Linked DNA regions of Homo sapiens. The protein of the gene in region 2 purifies or fractionates together with the protein of the main gene of each other region. This does not show direct contact. Each region holds a gene or a part of one and is shown on either strand. Other genes may lie near its edges.

Region 1 (3,311 bases), on a different chromosome or scaffold from region 2:
CCCTGCTGAGACTGTGGCTGGATCAATGAGTAAGGTCTGCCTGGTTCCAGAGCGAAGAGTGCTGGCACAGTGCCCCTTACTGCATCACTGGATTACATAAAAGTGAAGGGAACATCTAGCTCAAACATGCTATTGTTTTTGTACCAGTCTGGACAGAGGGCATGCTCAGGAAGCTGACAACAGTTTCAAGTAGAGAGAGCGGCACAGTCTGAATTAACTCACTTGGTCAGGGCACAGGAGAACAAGGCCCAAGGCACAAGTGTCAACTCTGATGAGATAGTCAGTTTATCAAAGCCAGAGCCATGTGTGGTGATAGGTGCCTATAGTTCCAGTTACTTAGAAGGCTGAGGCAGGAGCATCACTTGAGCCCAGGAGTTAAAGGCTATAGTGCACTATGATCACACCTATGAAGAGTTACTACCCTCCAGCCTGGGCCATATAGTGAAACACTGTCTCAAACCAATGAACAAATAAAGAAGTCAAAGGTGCACTGCTTAGGGTCACATACTGTAAACTTAAACCCTGCTAACCATGAACTGCAACCCTCAAGTCTGAAAGAGGACTCTGGGAGACATTACACAGTGCTCTGTCCACTCACAGGGTCTGTAAGAATTCCCTGAACTTGTGATTTGCATTAGACAATAATAAAATATTTGTAACCACTCCAAAGAAGGTGGACAGTGGATTGAAAAGAACCCAGAGGGCTCTCCCGCTCCACTCAAGCTCTCAAAGGCCAAGGTGTTCGCTCTGATGAGAGGTGTGAGCTGTAGGTTTGTTCAGCAAGTGCTGGGGCCTTACCCACCTGCCCCCTTTGGTCCATCCTGTGGGCTGTGGGGACCAGGCCCCTGCTACTCAAGGCCAAGGTAGGAAACAGTCTTTCCTGTTTTCTTCAGGGTTGCAAGCAGAGTGTCCATGCTGTGCTCAGATTCAATGCAGACCTTCTTGTTGGGCAGGTCAATGTCATACTTAACTCCTGCAGGAAGAGGAAATGGGGTATGGGGAGAGGAAGCACAGACCCTCCCAGTTACAGCAAGAAAGAGTTCAGGCTCTAAATTACTACTCACAACCACCCTTGCCCTTTCCTCTAGAGCAGGGATCGGCAAACTTCTTCTGTAACAGGCCAGAAAGCAAATGTTTTAGGCATTGTGGGTCACATATAGACTCTGTTGTATATTCTGTGTATTTTTTTTATAACTCTATTCCTGAACATACAAAAACAGGCTGTGAGCAGGATTTGGCCCATGTGCTGATCTCTGTTCTATACTAGGGCTTTCTGAGACAGAGACGCACTCTGTTGCCCAGGCTGGAGTGCAGTGGCATGATCTCAGCTCACTGCAACCTCCACCTCCTGGGTTCAAGTGATTGTCATGCCTCAGCCTTTGGAGCAGCTGGGATTACAGGCGTATGCCACCACACCTGGTTAATTTTTGTATTTTTAGTAGAGACAGGGTTTTGTCATGTTGCCCAGGCTGGTCTCAAACTCCTAATCTCAAGTGATCTGCCCGCCTTGGCCTCCCAAAGTGCTGGGAGTATAGGCATGAGCCACCGTGCCCAGCCACCTTTTTTTTTTAATTGCAAAAGTAATATAGACACTTTTTTTTTTTTTTTCAAAAAAGCAAACATTTCTAAATAAAAGTAGAAGCAGTAAGGCCCCCTACTGATCCTGCCCCTAGAGATCACTGTGAACAGTCTGGCTTCTATCTAGACTTTGTCCTAGATAGACAAATGAAAAATAATTCCTCCAAATCGCATCACACTATATAAACAGGTCTTGCTAATATTTTACTTTTCTCTTTATTTATTCATTTTTATTTATTTATTTATTTAGAGACAGGGTCTCACTGTGTTATACAGGCTGGAGTGCAGTGGCACAATCACAAATCACTGTATCCTTGAATACCTGGGCTCAGGTGATCCTCCCTTCTCAGCCTCCCAAGTTGTTGTGACTACAGGCACATGCCACTATGCCTGGTTAAGTTTTGTATTTTATGTAGAGACAGGGTTTCGCATATTGCCCAGGCTGGTCTTGAACTTCTAGGCTCAAGCGATCCGCCTGCCTTGGCTTCCCAAAGTGCTGGGACTACAGGTGTGAGCCACTGCACCCGGTCCATTCTTTTTTTTTTTTTTTGACACAGAGTCTCGCTGTGTCACCCAGGCTGGAGTGCAGTGGCACAATCTCAGCTCATTGTAGCCTGACTCCCGGGTTCAAGCGATTCTTCTGCCTCAGCCAGCCTCCCGAGTGGCTGGGATTACAGGCATGAGCCACCACACTGAGCTAATTTTTGTATTTTTAGTAGAGATGGGGTTTCGCCATGTTGGCCAGGTTGGTCTTGAATTCCTGATCTCAGGTGATCCACCTGCATTGGCCTCCCAAAGTGTTGGGACTATAGGCGTGAGCCACAGTGCCCGGCCCTATTCTTTTTTTAAAAGCTACAATCTTCCACAGTGTGGACGTACCACACATCCACTTAATTAATCCACTGTTAAAGGTCATTGAGGATGCTTCTAATTTTTCACCACTATCACAATGTTATAGTAAACATATTTGAACTTGTCTTAAAACACTTATAAAAATATTGTTATACCATGAATTCACAGAATGGAAATTGTGGGGCAACAGATATTTGGCACATTTTGAATGTTTAATAGACATTGCAAAATCGCCCTCCTAAATGGCTATGCCAATTTACAGCTCCCCAGCAGCACATGGGAGGACCCAGAGTTTTACTCTGACAAAAGAGTGCAAAAAGAAAGGAAAACTCTTGATAGGTTCTAGGCCTGGCCTCACCATTGACTTGCTGGGTGACCATGGGCAGGGAGTCGGTGGGAGGAGGGTCCTGCTTCTCACAGGCCTCAGCTACCTCATCTGTACATGAAGGAGTCAGGGCTGGCCAGCTCCTGTGGCCTTTCCAGCTCAAGGATGCCATCAGTCTGTGATTCCTCAGCCCTACCACTGTTCTTTTAGGGCCATAAGCAACTCAAAAAACCCTCCTGACCCTTCTCAAGAGGCCACCCAAGCAGGGACAGTAGGAAAAGATGGGCAGAAACCTGCCGAAGCTTAAAGGCAGATCTTCCAGCAAGGGGCCTTAAAAATCATATGGTTGGCCAGGCGTGGTGGCTCATGTCTGTAATCCCAGCACTTTGGGAGGCTGAGGCGAGTGGATCACTTGAGGTCAGAAGTTCAAGACCAGCCTGGCTAACGTGGTGAAACCCCATCTCTACTAAAAATACAAAAATTAGCTCAGTGTGTGGCATGTGCCTGTAATCCCAGCTTCTCGGGAGGCTGGGGCAGGAGAATCACTTGAACCTGG
Region 2 (3,656 bases):
AAACAATGTTACGGTTGAGTTTTTGTTTTGTTTTGTTTTGTTTTGTTTTTTGAGATGGAGTCTTGCTCTGTCACCCAGGCTGGAGCGCAGTGGCGCGATCTCAGCTCAGTGCAACCTCCGCCTCCTGGGTTCAAGTGATTCTTCTGTCTCAGCCTCATGAGTAGCTGGGATTACAGGTGCACACCACCATGCTTTTGTATTTTTAGTAGAGACGGGGTTTCACCATGTTGGCCAGGCTGGTCGTGAACTCCTGACAGGTGATCTGCCCACCTCGGCCTCCCAAAGTGCTAGTATTATAGGCGTGAGCCACTGCACCCAGCCAAAAAAAAAGTTTTTTTTTTTTGAGACAGAGTTTTGCTCGTCGCCCAGGCTGGAGTGCAATGGCACAATCTCAGCTCACTGCCACCTCTGCCTCCCAGGTTCAAGTGATTCTCCCACCTCAGCCTCCCAAGTAGCTGGGATTACAGGCACACACCACCACGCCCAGCTAATTTTTGTATTTTTAGTAGAGATGGGGTTTCACCATGTTGGCCAGGCTAGTCTCCAACTCCTGACCTCAGGTGGTCCACCTGCCTTGGCCTCCCAAAGTGCTGGGATTACAGGTGTGAGCCACCACTCCTGGCCTAAAAAGTTTTCTTATAGTCCCAGAGCTGTCTCATATATTTTAAAGGTAAATGCAAATGTTAGGAGGTTAACATACTCTTTTAGGGTGATAATTATTTTTCCCTTTCATGTGGTCAAATGGCAATTTTAGGAACTTGGCTTCCACTGTAATCAGGGGAGAGAAGTAGCATGCAAAGTAGGGCTGAAATCTTAGGAGGCTAAGAAAAAGCAGGAACTTGTACCTTACCATTAAAATAATTTAAAAAGTAAAAGAAGAACCAATTGCCAGTCATTTAAAACATTTGGTTCTGCTTTTGTGGGTTCCTAAATGCTGAGAGAACACACAAATCTATCTGAGTAAAAGAGGACATTTCATTTATTTTTCCTTTTTCTTTTTTTTTTTTTTTTGAGACGTAGTCTCCCTCTGTTGCCTGGGCTGGAGTGCAATGGCCAGTCTAGGCTCACTGCAACCTCTGCCTCCTGGTTCAAGTGATTCTCCTGCCTCAGCCTCCCGAGGAGCTGGGACTACAGGCACGCACCATCATGCCCAGCTAATTTTTGTATTTTTAGTAGAGACGGGGTTTCACCATATTGGCCAGAGTGGTCTCGAACTCCTGACCTCGTGAACCACCTGCCTTGGCCTCCCAAAGGGCTGGGATTACAGGCGTGAACCACTGCACCCGGCCCCATTTCTTTTCTTAAACTCAGAACTGCTGTTCAGAAATGTAGTCTTCCTAGTGCCTGAAGACTGGAGTTCTGAGTTCACATACAGCCTCAGGATGCCTAGGTACGAAGCACTCAAGTGAGACACTGAGGTCCAGGCGATACCATCCTGGTGTGTGGGTGTCCACTGTTTAACCGAGAGAATCTGGGAAGTGCACAAAGGATTCCTTGCTCTTTTTTTTTTTTTTTTTCTTGAGACGGAGTCTCACTCTGTCGCCCAAGCTGGAGTGCAGTGGCTCAACCTTGGCTCACTGCAATCTCTGCCTCCTGGGTTCAAGTGATTCTCCCGCCTCAGCCTCCCAAACAGATGGGATTACAGGGGCACACCACCATGCCCAGCCAATTTTTGTATTTTTTGTAGAGACGGGGTTTCAACATGTTGGCCAGGCTGGTCTCAAACTTCTGACCTCAAGTGACCCACCCACCTTGGCCTCCCAAAGTGCTGGGATTACAGGTGTGATCTGGCCAAATTTTTAAATAGGGAATATTTGCACATGCAACCAATTTTTTTTTAAGACAGAGTTTTGCTCTTGTTGCCCAGGCTGGAGTGCAGTGGCGTGATCTCGGCTCACCACAACCTTGGCCTCCCAGGTTCAAGCGATTCTTCTGCCTCAGCCTCCCAAGTAGCTGGGATTACAGGTGCCTGCCACCACACCCAGCTAATTGTTGTATTTTTAGTAGAGATGGGCTTTCACCGTTTTGGCCAAGCTGGTCTCAGGTGATCTGCCCATCTCGGCCTCCCAAAGTGCTGGGATTATAGGCAGGAGCCACTGAGCCCGGCCGAGACTACTTCGGCTTGCATTTGTCTGGTTTACTTTTGCATTCTTATTCTGAGTCACTTGGTTTGTATACAGCATTGTGTTGGGATTAAATGTGAGAGACTTGGCCAGGCGGGGTGGCTCATGCCTGTAATCCCAGCACGTTGGCAGGCCGAGGCGGGCGGATCACGAGGTCAGGAGATCGAGACCATCCCGGCTAAAACGGTGAAAACCCGTCTCTACTAAAAATACAAAAAATTAGCCGGGCGTAGTGGCGGGCGCCTGTAGTCCCAGCTACTTGGGAGGCTGAGGCAGGAGAATGGCGTGAACCCGGGAGGCGGAGCTTGCAGTGAGCCGAGATCCCGCCACTGCACTCCAGCCTGGGCGACAGAGCGAGACTCCGTCTCAAAAAAAAAAAAAATAAAAAAAAAAAAATAAAGGCACTTTTGTTTCCCAGTAGATGGTGCTAGAGACACAATAGAAAGAGGTTGCTTTACATCCTCTAAACCCTGATCAGTTCTGGCAGAATTCATAGTTGAACTTTTTGGATCTTGAAAGCCAAAGGCCAAATCCTAGATAGCAGTGTGACCCACTTGGGTATGCTTTTGTCCTGCAATGTTTACATGATATACTACCTCCCAGACTTGCATGGTGGCTCATGCCTGTAATCCCAGAGGTTTGGGAGGCTGAGGTGGGCGGATCACTTGAGGTCAGGAGTTTGAGACCAGCCTGGGCAACATGGCGAAACCCCGTCTCTACTAAAAATACAAAAATTAGCCAGGCGTGGTGGCGCATACCTGTAATATCAGCTACTCAGTAGACTGAGGCACAAGAATCGCTTGAACCCGGGAGATGGAGGTTGTGGTGAGCCAAGATTTCACCACTGCACTCCAGACAGAGTGAGACTCTGTCTCAAAAAAACAAAACAAAACAAAACAAAAAAAAGAAAAGAAATGAAAAGAAAAAGGCAACAATAATTCTTCTTTTTCTTTTTTAAAGACAGGGTCCTGCTATGCTCAAGTGATCCTCCTGCCTCAGCCTCCTGAGTAGCTAGGACTACAGGTGTATGCCCAATTATATATATACGTGTGTGTGTGTGTGTATGTGTGTGTTTAAGAGCGAGGGTCTCGTTCTGTTACCCAGGCTGTAGTGCAGTGGCATGATCACAGCTCAATGCAGCCTCGACCTGCCAGGCTCAGGTAATCCTCCTGTCTCAGCTTCCTGAGTAGCTGGGACCCCAGGCATGTACCAGCACCCCTGGCTAATTTTTAAATTATTTGAAGAGATGGGGGTCTCACTTTGTTGCGCAGGCTGGTTTCAAACTCCTGGGCTCAAGCAATCCTCCTGCCTCAGCCTCCCAAAGTACTGGGTTTACAAGCATGAGCCACCATGCTCAGCAATTCTTCATGAAACAATTAGACTTGGAAAAAAAAGCAGGTATTCTCATGGGCTCAGGAAGATTTTAGTCTTACCAACCTATATTCTGAGTGGTAACTTATGCTTTCTTCTATAACTTTAAATGGTGTTACAATATTTAATTCTTCCTTAAAGCCACAGTCAACTCAAAATCTA
Region 3 (3,656 bases), on a different chromosome or scaffold from region 2:
AATCAACAGATTTCTGGTGCTGATTACCTTCATATTCCTGGAATGAACTCTGCTTGGTCACATAGGTTATTTTAGGTAATTACTGCATTAAATTTACCGACATTTTATTTAGGGTTTTTCTATCTATTTCCACAAGTGAGATTAGCCTATAGTTTGCTTTTGAGGGCCATTCTTGTCAAATGTAAGCATCTGGGTTAGACCAGCCTCCTAAAATGAGATGGGAAACTTTCCACAGCTTCTATTATTTAGAACCATTTATAAAAAGAAAATACCACTTTTTCCTTGAAGGTCCAACCAACTTGTTGTAACACTTTTTGGGCTTTGTTTCTGACAACTTTTCTATTTCTTTATTTTTAAACTCTTGTGTCAATTTTAGAAATTTGTATTTTTTCTAGAAAAATCAGCCATTTAAAAATTTTTAAATCTTTTTAAAATTTATGTTTGTCTATTATTTCTAGTATTGATTATGTTTAATGACACTCAAAGTTCTTTTTCTATATATTTTTTTAAATTGAAGAACCACCTTGTAATTTTTTTATCCAATCTGCTATTTTCCCCTGGTTCAATAAATTTTGCTTTTATCTGTTAATTTGCTTCTTCTAATTTATTTAACTACTTTTTGCTAGGTTCCTATGTTATATGCATACTTTATTTATTTTCATTATTTATTTTCTTTTTTTCTTTTAAATAATTTATGTTAAACCTATTGTATCACACAGTATGTTTTAAACACTGCCAGATAACTCCCTAATCAGATAAAGCAAAGACAAAAAAGTTTATCTTACTAGAAACAAGAGACATCATCACTTATAGTTTTCAAACATTATTGCACTTTAACTGTCATAATTTGACAAAGAATTCATGAAATAATCTACAGACTAGTTTTAACAGACAAATAATACTTGTAAGCAGACATGACTGTCCTAAATTGTTTTTTAGGTATCAACTTTACAAACATTACTTACATTAGTGGTAACGGTGGAGTTGGAGAGTATTGTGCCTTTTCCAAGATGCACAGTGAGAATCACCAGGAGTGTGGTGGAACTTATGACCCTACCAAGGCCACGGATCTTTCGGCCTGCAGATGTCAGCCCATGCATCACCCTTTGCTTGTGGACTGGTTTGGTGATCCACTGGGTGGCAGGATTTTTTCTGACAGCATTATGGAGTGGATGAATGAGGATAACTTCAAACATTTTGTATGTTGAATCTTCACCGAAGTGAGAACTCAGGACTCTTAGCCGGGCATGGTGGCTCACACCTGTAATCCCAGCACTTTGGGAGGCCAAGTTGGGTGGATCACTTGAGGCCAGGAGTTCGAGACCAGCCTGGCCAACATGGTGAAACCGCGTTTCTACTAAACAAAAATTACAAAATTACAAAAATTAGCTGGGTGTGGTGGCGCACACCTATAATCCCAGCTACTTGGGAGGCTGAGGCATGAGAATTAGTTGAACCCAGGAGGCAGAGGTTGCAGTGAGTGAGATTGTGCCACTGCACTCCAGCCTGGGTGACAGAGCAAGACTCTGTTTCAAAAAAAAAAAAAAAAAAAAAGAAATACTATATATATATATATATATATATATATATATAGAAATAAAATGTATAAATATGTCTATATGTATAAATAAAAATATATGTACATGTATATCATATATACATGTACATATATGTATGCACATATATGTATGTACATATATACATGATGTACATGTATATCATGTATACATGTATATATATGTACATATATATATATATGTGAATTCAGGACTCTTAGAACCCCACAGTGGCGTCCAGCTTTCTCGTCTTCAATGGACTTCAAGCATACTTTAGCTGGTTAACACCACAGTGGACAGGCTTGCCATAAGCTGCACCCTTAGGAACTGGGCATTTTCGGCCACCATGGTGCACACGAATCCTATATATAACGTAAACTTGCTTGGCCTTGTAGCCCTGTCGGTGCACTTTTTTGGGCTGGGTGGGATGTGGAGCCCTGTGGTAGAGCAGAGAGCTGTCAGTACTGCTAGCAGGGACTCTCCGAAGAAAGTGCATGGTATCAGACTGCTGCTTCCTCCACAGCTCCTGAATGTACTTGTATGCAGTTATCTTGGCTTACCTGATGGCTGTTGCCAGACGGAAAGGAAAGAGCCTTTCTCCCCCATTATTTATTTTCTTATATGAATAGAAGGCTAGAAAATTTTCTGAGTGCTATTACGGTTGTGCCTCATGGGTTTTGATATGTAGACCTCTCATTATTATTTTCAAAATAGCTATAGCTGTGGCCTTAATTTCCACTTTCCTTCAGCTTCTTGCTCATTAATTTGCTCTTTAACTCTTTTCATTCTTCTATTCAACCTATCTACTATTTTTATTTTCACCATCATAACCTCGTTTTCTAAGATCTCTAATATAATTTTAATTTTGTTTTTATGTTTAATTTTTGATCTTGGAGAAATTTATTGTGATGAAAGGAACAAAACAGAGATTCAAATTCACCCTCCTTTCCCAATGGTAATTACCAATCTTTGAAATTCCATCTCTAACATATATTAAATTCTCAAATATAACAGTAATAATAGTAATAACTAATAATTATTTTATACTTATAAAACCCTCAAACAAACCTTTGCAGTGAGTTCTAGTATTAGCCTCAGTTTGTAGATGAGGAAAATTGAGGCATGGAGCAACTCATACAAATTAACATAAAAATTCATGTTATAACCAATTGTTCTTAAATTAGTATTAAAAATTAACATTTTCTATAATGCCATGACTCGATATCCTGATATTGAAGAGAAAACAAGCACAGACAGGATGGGGGACTTGCCCAAGGTCACAGTGGAAGACTGAAAATACATGTCATAGCTCCTGAAATTTTAATTCATTCATTTCTGCAGTTAGCCACACGGTCTGAGAGAATCAGTCCTTTTATTAAAGTCCATTTCATTCACAACAGTCATAGCTTTGTTTCTCAAGTTCTGTTACTAATACTGCTGTTCTTTTTTCTTTGTTTCTTTCTTTTTTTTTTTTTTTTTTAAGATTTTAAGTCAAAAGAGCATTCAGAGCACCAGAGTCAGCAATTTGTGCTGCAATACTTTGGCCAATTCCCCATTTAACAGTATGATCTTTGTAGGAGCTCTTATTTTCATATTGAAATGCTCATTGTATTTTTTGGGGGGCATACTTTCAGTGACTGCATTAAGACACAAGGTCTTGTTGGTAGCTCACCTAGAGGTAAAATACAGCTACTTCCCCCAATTACAGCCCTACCATTCATTATTAGAGGGTTAGGTATGAAGTTTAGAAAAACACTGTACACTTCAGTTCTTTCTGTTCTTAGAGAAAAATGCCTTCCTTGTTTCCTTTTATAGCCTCCATGCATTTGAATTTCTAAGGTAGGAATGTTGTATAGTAAGCCTCTTGGTACTGAAGCAGTTATAAGCCATGAACAGACTGCCTTCCCAAGGAAGTCTAGGAAAATGACAAAGTTTTATAATTCAAAATAATTTCATTAAGACACATTTTAGGAGACTTATTCTAACTCTGCTGTTAGCACTTCATGTTATTTGTGTTTGCAGTCCTTATAAAAACAAATTAATAAGGATTCAAGTTCAGGAAAACTTGAATTTCATCTGTATATGATTTTCACAGGCAGA

Evidence for each region.
Region 1: the proteins of GALM (region 2) and ATOX1 fractionate together in Homo sapiens (co-fractionation; one large-scale study listed by BioGRID). This does not show direct contact.
Region 3: the proteins of GALM (region 2) and GALK2 fractionate together in Homo sapiens (co-fractionation; one large-scale study listed by BioGRID). This does not show direct contact.

The regions. Positions count from the first base shown.
Region 1 is NC_000005.10:151,745,477-151,748,787, forward strand, and holds part of ATOX1 (copper transport protein ATOX1), read right to left. Parts: intron 974-3,311; coding exon 849-973; 3' UTR 803-848; intron 1-802. UniProt on the Homo sapiens protein: Binds and deliver cytosolic copper to the copper ATPase proteins. May be important in cellular antioxidant defense.
Region 2 is NC_000002.12:38,725,080-38,728,735, reverse strand, and holds part of GALM (galactose mutarotase), read right to left. Parts: intron 1-3,656. UniProt on the Homo sapiens protein: Mutarotase that catalyzes the interconversion of beta-D-galactose and alpha-D-galactose during galactose metabolism.
Region 3 is NC_000015.10:49,176,635-49,180,290, forward strand, and holds part of GALK2 (N-acetylgalactosamine kinase), read left to right. Parts: intron 1-3,656. UniProt on the Homo sapiens protein: Acts on GalNAc. Also acts as a galactokinase when galactose is present at high concentrations. May be involved in a salvage pathway for the reutilization of free GalNAc derived from the degradation of complex carbohydrates.